2 separate regions of the Homo sapiens genome follow, and region 2 is linked to region 1. The links come from fine-mapping of genetic effects on gene expression. Tissue or cell type: gastroesophageal junction. Region 1 holds a variant in brackets; the other region holds the start of a gene. All regions are shown on one strand. Distances are from middle to middle.

The links. PIP is the estimated chance that this variant, and not a neighbour inherited with it, causes the effect.
Region 2: it holds the start of MUC4, and the variant in region 1 is fine-mapped to the expression of MUC4 in gastroesophageal junction (GTEx, PIP above 0.99).

The regions. Positions count from the first base shown.
Region 1 is chr3:196,214,139-196,219,281 of GRCh38, reverse strand. SLC51A (solute carrier family 51 member A) reads right to left here and starts at 2,748. Exons shown (of 9, transcript NM_152672.6): 1 at 2,532-2,748; 2 at 1,346-1,440. The coding sequence starts at 2,569. LOC124909479 (a long non-coding RNA gene) reads right to left here. Exons shown (of 4, transcript XR_007096240.1): 4 at 4,640-4,859. LOC105374304 (a long non-coding RNA gene) reads left to right here. Exons shown (of 4, transcript XR_001740544.2): 2 at 523-618; 3 at 4,938-5,097. RefSeq lists an enhancer at 1-46. The variant G/A (reference allele first, on the strand shown) is at 1,971.
Region 2 is chr3:195,809,985-195,815,127 of GRCh38, reverse strand. MUC4 (mucin 4, cell surface associated) reads left to right here and starts at 3,199. Exons shown (of 25, transcript NM_018406.7): 1 at 3,199-3,392. The coding sequence starts at 3,311. RefSeq lists an enhancer at 4,939-5,143.

The DNA.
Region 1 (5,143 bases):
CATCCTATGCCTTTCACTTTCTTTTTCTTTTCCTTTTTTTTCTTTTATTTTTGAGACGGAGTCTCACTCACTCTGTTGCCCAGGCTGCAGTGCAGTGGCGTGATCTCGGCTCACTGCAACCTCCGCCTCCCGAGTTCAAGCAACTCTCCTGCCTCAGCCTCCCGAGTAGCTGGGATTACAGGTGCCCGCCACCACGCCTGGCTAATTTTTGTATTTTCAGTAGAGACGGGGTTTCACCATGTTGGCCAGGCTGGTCTCCAACTTCTGGCTTCAAGTGATCCACCTGCCTCGGCCTCCCAAAGTGCAGGGATTACAGGCGTGAGCCACCGCTCCCAGCCAATGCCTTTCACTTTCAAAAGTAATTCAGTAATAGAATCTTGTTGGCCAACACTGCGAGGACTTTTGCAGGTTCACCTATGTTTTTTTTTTTTTAATTACTGTTTTATTTGGAAAAAGTGCTTCTTGCAAAAGGGAAGCTGCAAAACAGAGACCTCTGCAACAATTACTTGTTTTTTCTTAAAGTGAAAGAATGGGTGGGATCCAAGGAATCAAAGCAGTAGATGGACGACCAGGAGCACCCCAAGTTATCTTCAGGAAACAGAGCGACAAAACGCAAAGGTAAAATTTCCAGTCAAGGAATTCTTCCAACAGCTGAACTTGAGCTGGCCTCGGGGATCCCCACACCCTCCCCTTCAGTGGACAATTATGACTTATTATTGCAAACAAATTACTCCACTACAATAAACACTGTAGAACAGGTTTTTGAATCCCATCTGTCCACCTGAGAGCTCAGGGGTGGAATGAGGCAAATACCCACAAACACACACACAAAAACCCGACAACAGAATGCTCCAGTGAGGACAAAGGTTTTTCAGAAAGGCTGGATCGTAAAACAAATACAACTGGTTCACCTGTGTGAAGCACGTCACTCACCGTAACCACCCTCTAGAGTGACATGGGTCCAGGGCGGATGCCGTGCAGCCCTCCAGGAGACCCGATGGGGCTTGGACCACTTGGGCACCATCTTGGGTCCCCAGATGGCTCTGGGGTCTGAAAAAGCGCCCCAGGTCGCAGTGTCCGCAGTTTGAATGAGCTTTGAGGCCAGTTTTGTGGAGGCCCAACATGACGGTTGCTCTCCGGAGCCAGGCTCTCATGCTACCCTTTTGACCCACTGACTCCTTGAGGCATTGCCCTTCTCCAGAGCCTTAACCACGATGACAGACACCGGGCCAGTTATTCTCCCCGGCTGCCCAGGTGCACCAGCTCAGGGCCGCCTCTCCCCAGCTCCACTCAGCTATCCTGGTTTCCCTCCTCTCAGTTCCCTCTGAGGAGGGTCCCCACTCACCTCTCAGGAGTTGGGCTGCTGTGGGAGGCTGAGAGAAGCAGGCGGAGGGGATGCCGTAATTGGTCTTCAGCACCTCCAGAAGATCTGCTGTGTACCTGGCGAGACACCAGCCTGTGCTCAGAACCATGGGGGCTGGGGGAAGGGGGAGGGTTGCACACTGGACCCTCAACCACTCCTGAGTGCAGGACTTTGTCCATTTCCCCTCAGGGCCTCTTTCTCTCTCTTTCTTTCTTTCCTTCCTTCCTTCCTTTCACTCTCTCTTTCTCTTTCTCTCTCCCTTCCCCTTCCCCTTCTCCTTCCTTCCTTCCTTCTGCTCTCTCTTTCTCTTTCTCTCTTCCTTCCCCTTCTCTTTCCTTCCTTCCTTCCTTCCTTTTTCTTTCTTTTTTTTTCTTTTTGAGACAGGGTCTTGCTCTGTTGTCCAGGCTGGAGTGCAGTGGTCTGTCTTGGCTCATACAGGCAGCCTTGACCTCCTGGGCTCAAGTGATCTACTCAACCCCCATCCCCATGAGTAAGCTGGGACTACAGGTGCACGCCACCAGGCCCGGCTAATTTTTTATATTTTTGGTAGAGACAGGATTTCGCCATGTTGCTCAGACACTGGTCTCGAACTCCAGGACTCAAACTG[G/A]AACTGGGCTTAAACTCCTGGACTCCCGCCTCAGCCTCCCAAAGTGCTGGGATTACAGGCGCCCGGCCTCAGGGCCCTTTTCTTAGAGGGAGTGGAGAACTGGCCCAGGTGGGGGAGTAAGACAAGCTGCCACCTAGCCAGGCTGTGCCTGGCTGCCGTGCCTGAAGAGCCCACCGTGGATTCTCTCCATGCGGGTCGGGCAGCAGCCCAGGGACTGACCAGAGAGGAAGAGCAGGATCCCAGAGGAAGGGTGAGTCCTTACAGACGGACGGGCCCCCTGCTGCTGAGGGATGCTGCCATTTCCTCTGCGAATGCCTTCCACAGCCCCCGCTCTGCGACCTTTCTCTCCCCACGCTGGGGGGCAAGGCCGAGGCCCTGGAGTGTCACACCCTGGCCCAAACCCACGTTGTCCCTGAGGACCTAGGAACAGCTAGAGCATTTCCAGTCCTGTCTCATTCTGAGTGCGGCCGCCAAAGGGCTCTGGGAGGGAGAGAGGACAGGCCGCGGGATAGGGGCCACCGCTGCCCAGCGACTGGCCCAGGGCCCGCCGCCCTCACTTACCTGGGGTCAAGCTTTATCTGGGTCCTGCCCGGCTCCATCGCCGCGTTCTCTCCAGCAATCCCGCAGGCACCGGGGTGAGGAAGGGCAGGCGGGGCGGGCAGGTGGGGGCCGGGGGCAGGGTGGCTTGCCTGGGCCGGGGTGGGGGGCAAGCAGAATTGCAGAGTCTTCCCCTCTGCCGCTCTCCCTCCTTGAGCTTCCCGGGCCAACTTTCTATCTCAGAGTTCACCCCGGAGGAATTTGATCCTCTAGGCTGGCGGAGTTCCCTGTGCCTGACTCGTCCCTGCCCCCAGGTGTGGTCCCTCCCACCTCTTGGACAGGTGCCTTTGGCCACCCCTTGCCTCTGGCCCGGCCCATCCTATAGGATTTTGCTGCCAGTCTGCCCTGCCCTTCCAGGAGCCTTCTGGGGTGGGGTGGGCTCACCACGAAGCCCCTGCCCTGGGCCGGGGTGGGGACGAAGTCCTCGCTCCTCACCGCAGTGTTCCCTGGTCAGCGGCCCCTGAAGAACCTGCTGGAACTCAGGCTTGGGCACTCTGCAGCGGGGAGACTCAGGGCTGAGGCCTCGGCCGTGTTTGGTGCTGTCAGCCTGATGTGTGGAAGGGAGGACAGGCTGGAAAAGCCAGATGAGGCCGGTGTGGGTTTCCCAGACCCCAGTTCATCACATCTGGATGATGGGCTTAGCCACCCCCACGCTGGGCCGGAAGATGCTGTATTTAAGAGGCAGAGTTGCAGAGTGAGATTGCTGGGCATTTGACAGGTCTTGAAAACCTGCTGAATTACAGGCTTGCAAACGATTTTATTGGCTGATAGCTTCCCTTTTCTCTCTCTCCACATAGACTGAAATCTCTTCGAAGCCAGACACAGCATCTTGTACTGTGGTACGGTGGTACCTCTAGGTTCCTGGCACGCAGCCTGACACATACGAAGGGCCCCTTAGAATTTGGTTGCATAGCTGATGAAAGCAGCCAGCGTCTGTCAGCATGTCTGGTGTGCCAGGGCCCGCAGGACATGCAGTGTGTTCCTTAGCTTATTTAAACTTTACCACCGCGTTACAAGGGAAGTAGTATCCTTATTCCCATTTTACAGATAAGGAGGCTGAGGTCCAGAGAGGCTAAGAAACCAGGTCAGACAGAAAGCTGTGGGGTGTGGAGAGCGGCCAAAGGGGCCTGGGGGAGGGGCTCTGTTGGGGCATGGTGGAGATGGAGGTAGTGAGAAGAGGGCCCAGGAGAGGGTGCAGAGGGTCAATTCTGGGAAGGGAGAGGGGGCTTCCTGCGCTGGGCTGGTGAGGCCATACAAGCAGTGGAAGCAGTCCCTGATGGGGTACCCGGAGGACTCCCCACTCCTGTGCCCAGACACCTCAAAGTCTCTCCCAAGAGTCAAGCTGCATCCCCCTCCAGCTTCCCCTCCTCCTAAAGTCCAGTTCCTGGGACAGGACAATGTCGTGAGGCAGGCGTCTCAGGGGCCAGCTGCCTCCTAAGGTGGAGGTCAGGGAAGGAAGAGGCCTGCAAGGGCCCTGACCCCCAGAGGGTCACTGGCCTCAGCCCACCCTGACAAAGACGCAGACTGACTCAGCTTCCTCCCAGCATCTCCGCAGGCACGTTCGCCAGGTCATTCACCCCCAGCCCACTGAGAGGCCTTGGGTTTAATTACCCAAAGCCCTGAACTTTAGACTTCCCAGAGCTGACAACAGGGCGCTGGGGATGTTCTTAGAAACTTCAGGACACAGTGGGGAATGGCAGGAAAGGTGAAAGGGCAGGAGGGAGCCGGGGGGGGCTGCGGTTGGGCTGAGACGGGTGCTTCCCCACTGGGCAGCAGAGACTGGGAGACCCCAGGAGAGACCGGCAGGGTGTCAGTGAGGGAAGGGGGCTTCTGCCCCACCCAAGGTCTCTACGGGGTTGTCTTCTGTACAGTGTGGCCCGGGATCCAGCCAGCGGGAGGCCCTGCCTGGAGGCCGGCCCATCCCCAGCTAAGGCTTGGTCAGAGAGGATGAGCTGTGGCCGCCAGGGTCTCCTCTTGGCAGTTGGGGCCTGCCAGCTCTCAGAAACTGATTTTAGAACCAAAAAGAATAAGTCCTTCTGAATTTCATTTCTTTGGCCTATTTTTTCCCACAAAATTATATGATAGCATCATCTGACACTTATTGAGACAGAGGAGGGATGGGACTCGGCTGCCAACTCCACTAATGCATTCGCTAATGCATTCCCCCCCCCAACATTTTTCTTTCTTCCTTTTTTTTTCTTACCTGCTCATTGAAGGACAGTGAAAGCATTAAGATAAGCAGCATTCCACTGTAAATCTTACACAAAATGCCACATCCACTGATCACACGACCTTGAAAAATGAAGATAGGCAGCGTCGCACTTCCAATCTTGTACTTCAGGGAATGAACTCCATTGCCTTTGTGTGCAGGAAGCCGGAAGCACGACCACTCTTTACCCTCGGCCTCATTACAAGACCAAGACCTCTGCCTCGGCGCGGCAGCTCTCACCTGGAATCCCAGCACTTTGGGAGGCCGAAGCGGACGGATCACCTGAGGTGTCAGGAGTTTGAGACCAGCCTGGCCAACAAGGTGAAACCCCGTCTCTACTAAAAATACAAAAATTAGCCAGGTGTGG
Region 2 (5,143 bases), 400 kb after region 1:
AGTAGGTAAATCAGACTTAATAAACATCCAGCTTCCTGCTCGAGATCAGCCTAGTTGTCCTAAGTCTGACAAGATTGAACTTTATTCACAGCACGAGGCATAAATGATATAAAGGTAAGCAATTTTAGGGGACCCAAAAAACTAGGGACTCCTACTTGGGTAGCTTAGAAGGGGAATCTCTCTTGGAGATCCTGGCTTTGCTGCCTCAAACCCAGCTGTCTCTTCAAGCCAAGTCTGGGAGAATCTCATGATCTTATCCTTGCTCCAATTTACTTACACCCCACATCCACACTAAGCTCTTCCTGCCTCCCGTGGAATATTAACTTACACCTGACTTCAGACTCCTGCCCCTATGCAGACCCAGCAGTATGCGGGCCTAGGAGGTTTTTCGGCCACAAGGAACTAGAGAAGCCACTCATTTTGTCCCCTCTCATTCACCCCATTCTGTCCCCATCGGATGCCTTGGGAGGAGAGAAGGAAGGACAAATGGGTGTCCCGTGACCCAACCCAGATGAAGACAGAGCCATTTATCACAGAGACCCAGACACATCCTAACTCTGGAAAATGGGCATATTGAGGGGAGCTGGAAAGCAGAAGGGAAACGGGCGTGGGCAGGGAAGAGGTGAACAGGAGTGCGCACGCCCAGTTCTCCAGGATCTCACGCTCCTAATCAGGATCCTATAAGACTCAAAGGGGACGCAGGAAAGACCTGGGCCTGGAAATTCACTTCCGGACTCCTCCTGTATCCTGGCTGGCCCTCGTTTGTGTCTCCCTCCAGGGATGATGCCCGGATGGAAGGAGGAGCCACGTTCCTCCACAGGTGTCCTCCACAACAGGTGTCCTCACAACAGGTGTCGTAACAACAGGTGTCCTCACAACAGGTGTCCTAATACTCCCGCAGCCCCTCAGCATCTACAGGCTCACTCCCACCCTACAACCTTTCAGATAGGTGTTATCCCCATTTTACAGGTGAACGAGGAAAACAGCTCGAAGAGGCTGTGACTTTGTGGTGACGCGGTGGCAGAGCTGGGATCAAGCCCAGGTTTGTAACGCCCTCCTGGAGTCTCGGCCGTCACAGCAGCTTCCGGAGAGCGCTGTGTGCCTCTGGCCTTCCTGGCATGGGAAAGAGGTCAGCTACCTGTGTTCGGTCAACAAGATGTCCAGCGCTTAGTTTGGTCTCACCTGGATGCTCCTTTCTCCTCTAGAGATGGAAAACTGTTGTCCTGAAAGCGTCACCAAACAAAACCTGTGGAAAGGTAATGGGGGGACCCACGAGCAAGAGCTGACAGAAAAATGACCACGGGCCGGGTGCAGTGGCTCACGCCTGTAATCCCAGCACTTTGGGAGGCCAAGGCGGGCGGATCATCTGAGTTCAGGGGTTCGAGACCAACCTGGCCAACATGGTGAAACCTCGTCCCTACTAAAAATACAAAAAAAATTAGCCGGGCGTGGTGGCAGGTGCCTGTAGTCCCAGCTACTAGGGAGGCTGAGGCAGGGGAATGGCGTGAACCCGGGAGGCGGAGCTTGCAGTGAGCTGAGATGGTGCCACTGCACTCCAGCCTGGGCGACAGAGCAAGACTCCATCTCAAAAAAAAAAAAAAGTGCAAAATGATCACGAAGGCCAAGCTGGGCCTTGGTGTCTGCGAATTCCCTGCAGTAGGTCCCTCCTGCTGCCCCGTCCAGGCGCCCACAGGATGCTCCACATGACTCTTTACCTTTATGATTTTCTTACCTCCAGGAAAGAACAGGGTCAGCTCGTCCACCCAGAGCTGGAGGGACTGTTGGGGGACCACGCCACTTCCCCACGGTATCCGCATTATTATGGCGTGGCCCAGGCTTTGGCCTGGGGCCATGAACAGACTTTCAGCTTCTAGAAGCAAGTGGTCACAGGGCCTCCGTGACCCTCGGAGACAGCGCCACAGCGTCGGTTGCCTACTCCTTGCTGGACAAGGCTGGCTCTGCTTGGGAATGCAGAAACCCTGAGTCCTTGTCCTGGGCCCCACAGTGTCTGAGCATCGAAGGTCCCTGCTCTGGGACGAGTCACCCCACAGACACCCCACATTCGGGAATCAAGTCTTGAGGAATCAGAAGCAGAGATTCACACTGTGGCAAAGAGGGGAGCGGAGGTATCCCCGTTTTCCTTTGCAGAGAGCTACACCAACTGCCCTCTTCGTCTTTACAACCCTACTTGGGGTCCCTTTCCCTCCTCGCTTGTGCCTGTGAGTTCCAAGAGGTGGAACTGGGGTGAGCAGAGCCCCCAGGTCTCCAGGAGCAGCTCCACCTCCTCACAGGTTACAGTCGCTTCCTCCTACCGAGGTTCTGCCTTCAACCCACTGCCCATGCCAGCTCCCTCAGGCCAGTCTCCCAGACTGTCCCTGGCTCCCTGCACCCTGGCTCCAGCTCCCTGCCCTGGAAAGAAGAAGTCCACCATCTGGTGAGGGTCTGCCACGCATCTGGGGTCTGCCATGCGTCTGCACTGAGGTTCTGCCACGAGTCTGCACTGAGGTTCTGCCATGCGTCTGGAGTCTGCCACGCGTCTGGGGTCTGCCACGCGTCTGGAGTCTGCCATGGGTCTGGGGTCTGCCATGTGTCTGGGATCTGCCGTGCGTCTGGGGTCTGCCACGCATCTGCACTGAGGTTCTGCCACGCGTCTGGGGTCTGCCACGCGTCTGGGGTCTGCCACGCGTCTGGGGTCTGCCACGCGCCTGCACTGAGCAGATATTCCAAGCACACCACCCCTTTCCAAAAGACGGCATACAGTGCATTTCTGTTCCTGCCCCTCACCCACATGGTTCCCCGCTTCCCAATTCCTTGGGGTCTGCTTAAGTCTCACTCTCTTTCCCCCATTCATACAGCCCCAAGGTCGCTCCCTCTGGGGCCCTTTCTTCCCCATTCTTCCCAGCAGCCCAAAGCTCTGGTGGGACAGGGGCAGCCCCTGGGGAGGGAGGAGAGGACCCAGGAACCCGGCTAGGAGGGTGGCCCACCCATTTCCAGTGTGACCTGTTCCCATTCCCCCATGTCTCCTCCCATCCCTCCCGCCACTCAGCTCAGGCTGATGAGAAGCAGAGCAACGGGTGTATCGGTGTTTTCTTTCCTGGTGGGGTAGTGGGGTGGGGCTGAGGAGAGAAAAGGGTGATTAGCGTGGGGCCCCGCCCTCTTTTGTCCTCTTCCCAGGTTCCCTGGCCCCTTCGGAGAAACGCACTTGGTTCGGGCCAGCCGCCTGAGGGGACGGGCTCACGTCTGCTCCTCACACTGCAGCTGCTGGGCCGTGGAGCTTCCCCAGGGAGCCAGGGGGACTTTTGCCGCAGCCATGAAGGGGGCACGCTGGAGGAGGGTCCCCTGGGTGTCCCTGAGCTGCCTGTGTCTCTGCCTCCTTCCGCATGTGGTCCCAGGTAAGTGATGGAGACAGCAGATGAGGCTGGCTGCGGGGAGCACTTGGGGGAGGTGGGAGCTGTCAGAGAAAGAGGTCCGGGGAGACAGAGAGAGAGAGAGAGAGAATAGGGGAAAGGGAGACAGCGAAGAGGAAGAGAAGGGAGAGAAAAAGAGGGAGAGGGAAAGGAGAAAGAGATGAATGGGACAACATGGGGGGAAGGTGGAGAGAGACCCAGAGAGGGAAAGAAGAGGAAGAGAAGAGGGAGAGAGAAAGAAGAGTGGAGGCCGTGCGCGGTGGCTCATGCCTGTAATCCCAGCACTTTCGGAGGCCAAGGCAGGAGATCACCTGAGGTCAGGAGTTCGAGACCAGCCTGGCCGACATGGTGAAACCCCGTCTCTACTAAATATACAAAAATTAGCCGGTCGTGGTGGGCCCCACCTGTAATTCCAGCTACTCAGGAGTCTGAGGCAGGAGAATCACTTGAACCTGGGAGGTGGAGGTTGCAGTGAGCCAAGATCGCGCCACTGCACTCCAGCCTGGGAGAGAGAGCGAGACTCTGTCTCAAAATAAATAAATAAATAAATAAATAAATAAATAAATAAATAAATATAAAATAAAATAAAAAATAAGAAGAGGAGAAAAGTGGGGAAGAGGAGGCATGAACTGGCAGATACGGGACAAGATCTGAGGGGAAAGACAGAGGGAGAATGCTCGAAAGAGAGAGAAAAGAGAACAGAGGGCCAGAGAGCAGCCCGGCGATGTCTGGAAGGATCCATGGTGAGAGCCCAGGCTTACTCGCAGAGAGAAAGACAGGCAGAGCCAGAGCAAGAGGAACAGAGTCAAGGAGAAAGATGTACACCCTTGTGTACAGAGCTGGGGGTAGAGGGGATGCCAGGAAAGCTGGGTGATGGAGACGGAAGAAAACTCATGTAAAGCTGCAGGGTGAGAGGACGAGACAGGTGAGACGCAGACAAACTGAGGACCCTGGGAATGGAGAGAGGAGAAGATCGGGAGACAGCAGCAAGCAAGGGAAGCGACAAGGAGGAGAGGGGCAGGCCGGCCGGGAGGGTGGTGCGGAGGAGGCGGCCAGGGCGCAGAGGGCCGGGAGGTGCTGGCCGTGGGCTTCTTACCTCTGAGCTCGGGTTTAAAAGCCTCCATTTGGGTCACGGCCTTGCCTGGGGCTCGTAGCCCCGGCATTGGCCTTGGGCTCCTCCGTGTACAGAGCTGGGAGGGGAGGGATGCCAGGCCTGTGGGAGATGTTCCCTCGGGGGCCCCCGTCCTCTTCCCCACACTTTCCAGGCTGTCCCTCTGGCTTCAGGACCAAGTTTTATTCTGTGTTTCTGGGTGTCTGAGTCTTTGGGGGAGAGTCTGGGGTCCAGAGTTCAAGCTGGGGTTAGAGTCTCAGCTCCTGCCCTGCCTCTCAGCAGGCTAAGAACAGTCGCCGAGGGAAAATATTTCTTGGGCGCATATTTGAGGAGCTTCCTGGGAGTGAGTCAGAAGGCGAGTGCCGTTTAAAGGCTGCAAGAGAAGCCATGCTGGTGAAGCGGACCCTTCCACCTCGGGATGTTTCAGGACTAGGCTGAGGGCAAAGGAAACTGCCACCACCTCCCTACACCTCCCCACCCTCCAGCACCCCCACCCCACCCTGGCCACACAACCCCGCTCCAGTGCTCATCCCACCGTGAGGACGTGGAGGCCGGAAGGAGCCGCCACACGGCCCTGCCCTGCAGATGTGGTTGAAGGAGTCTCCACGGGAATCATGACTCCCAG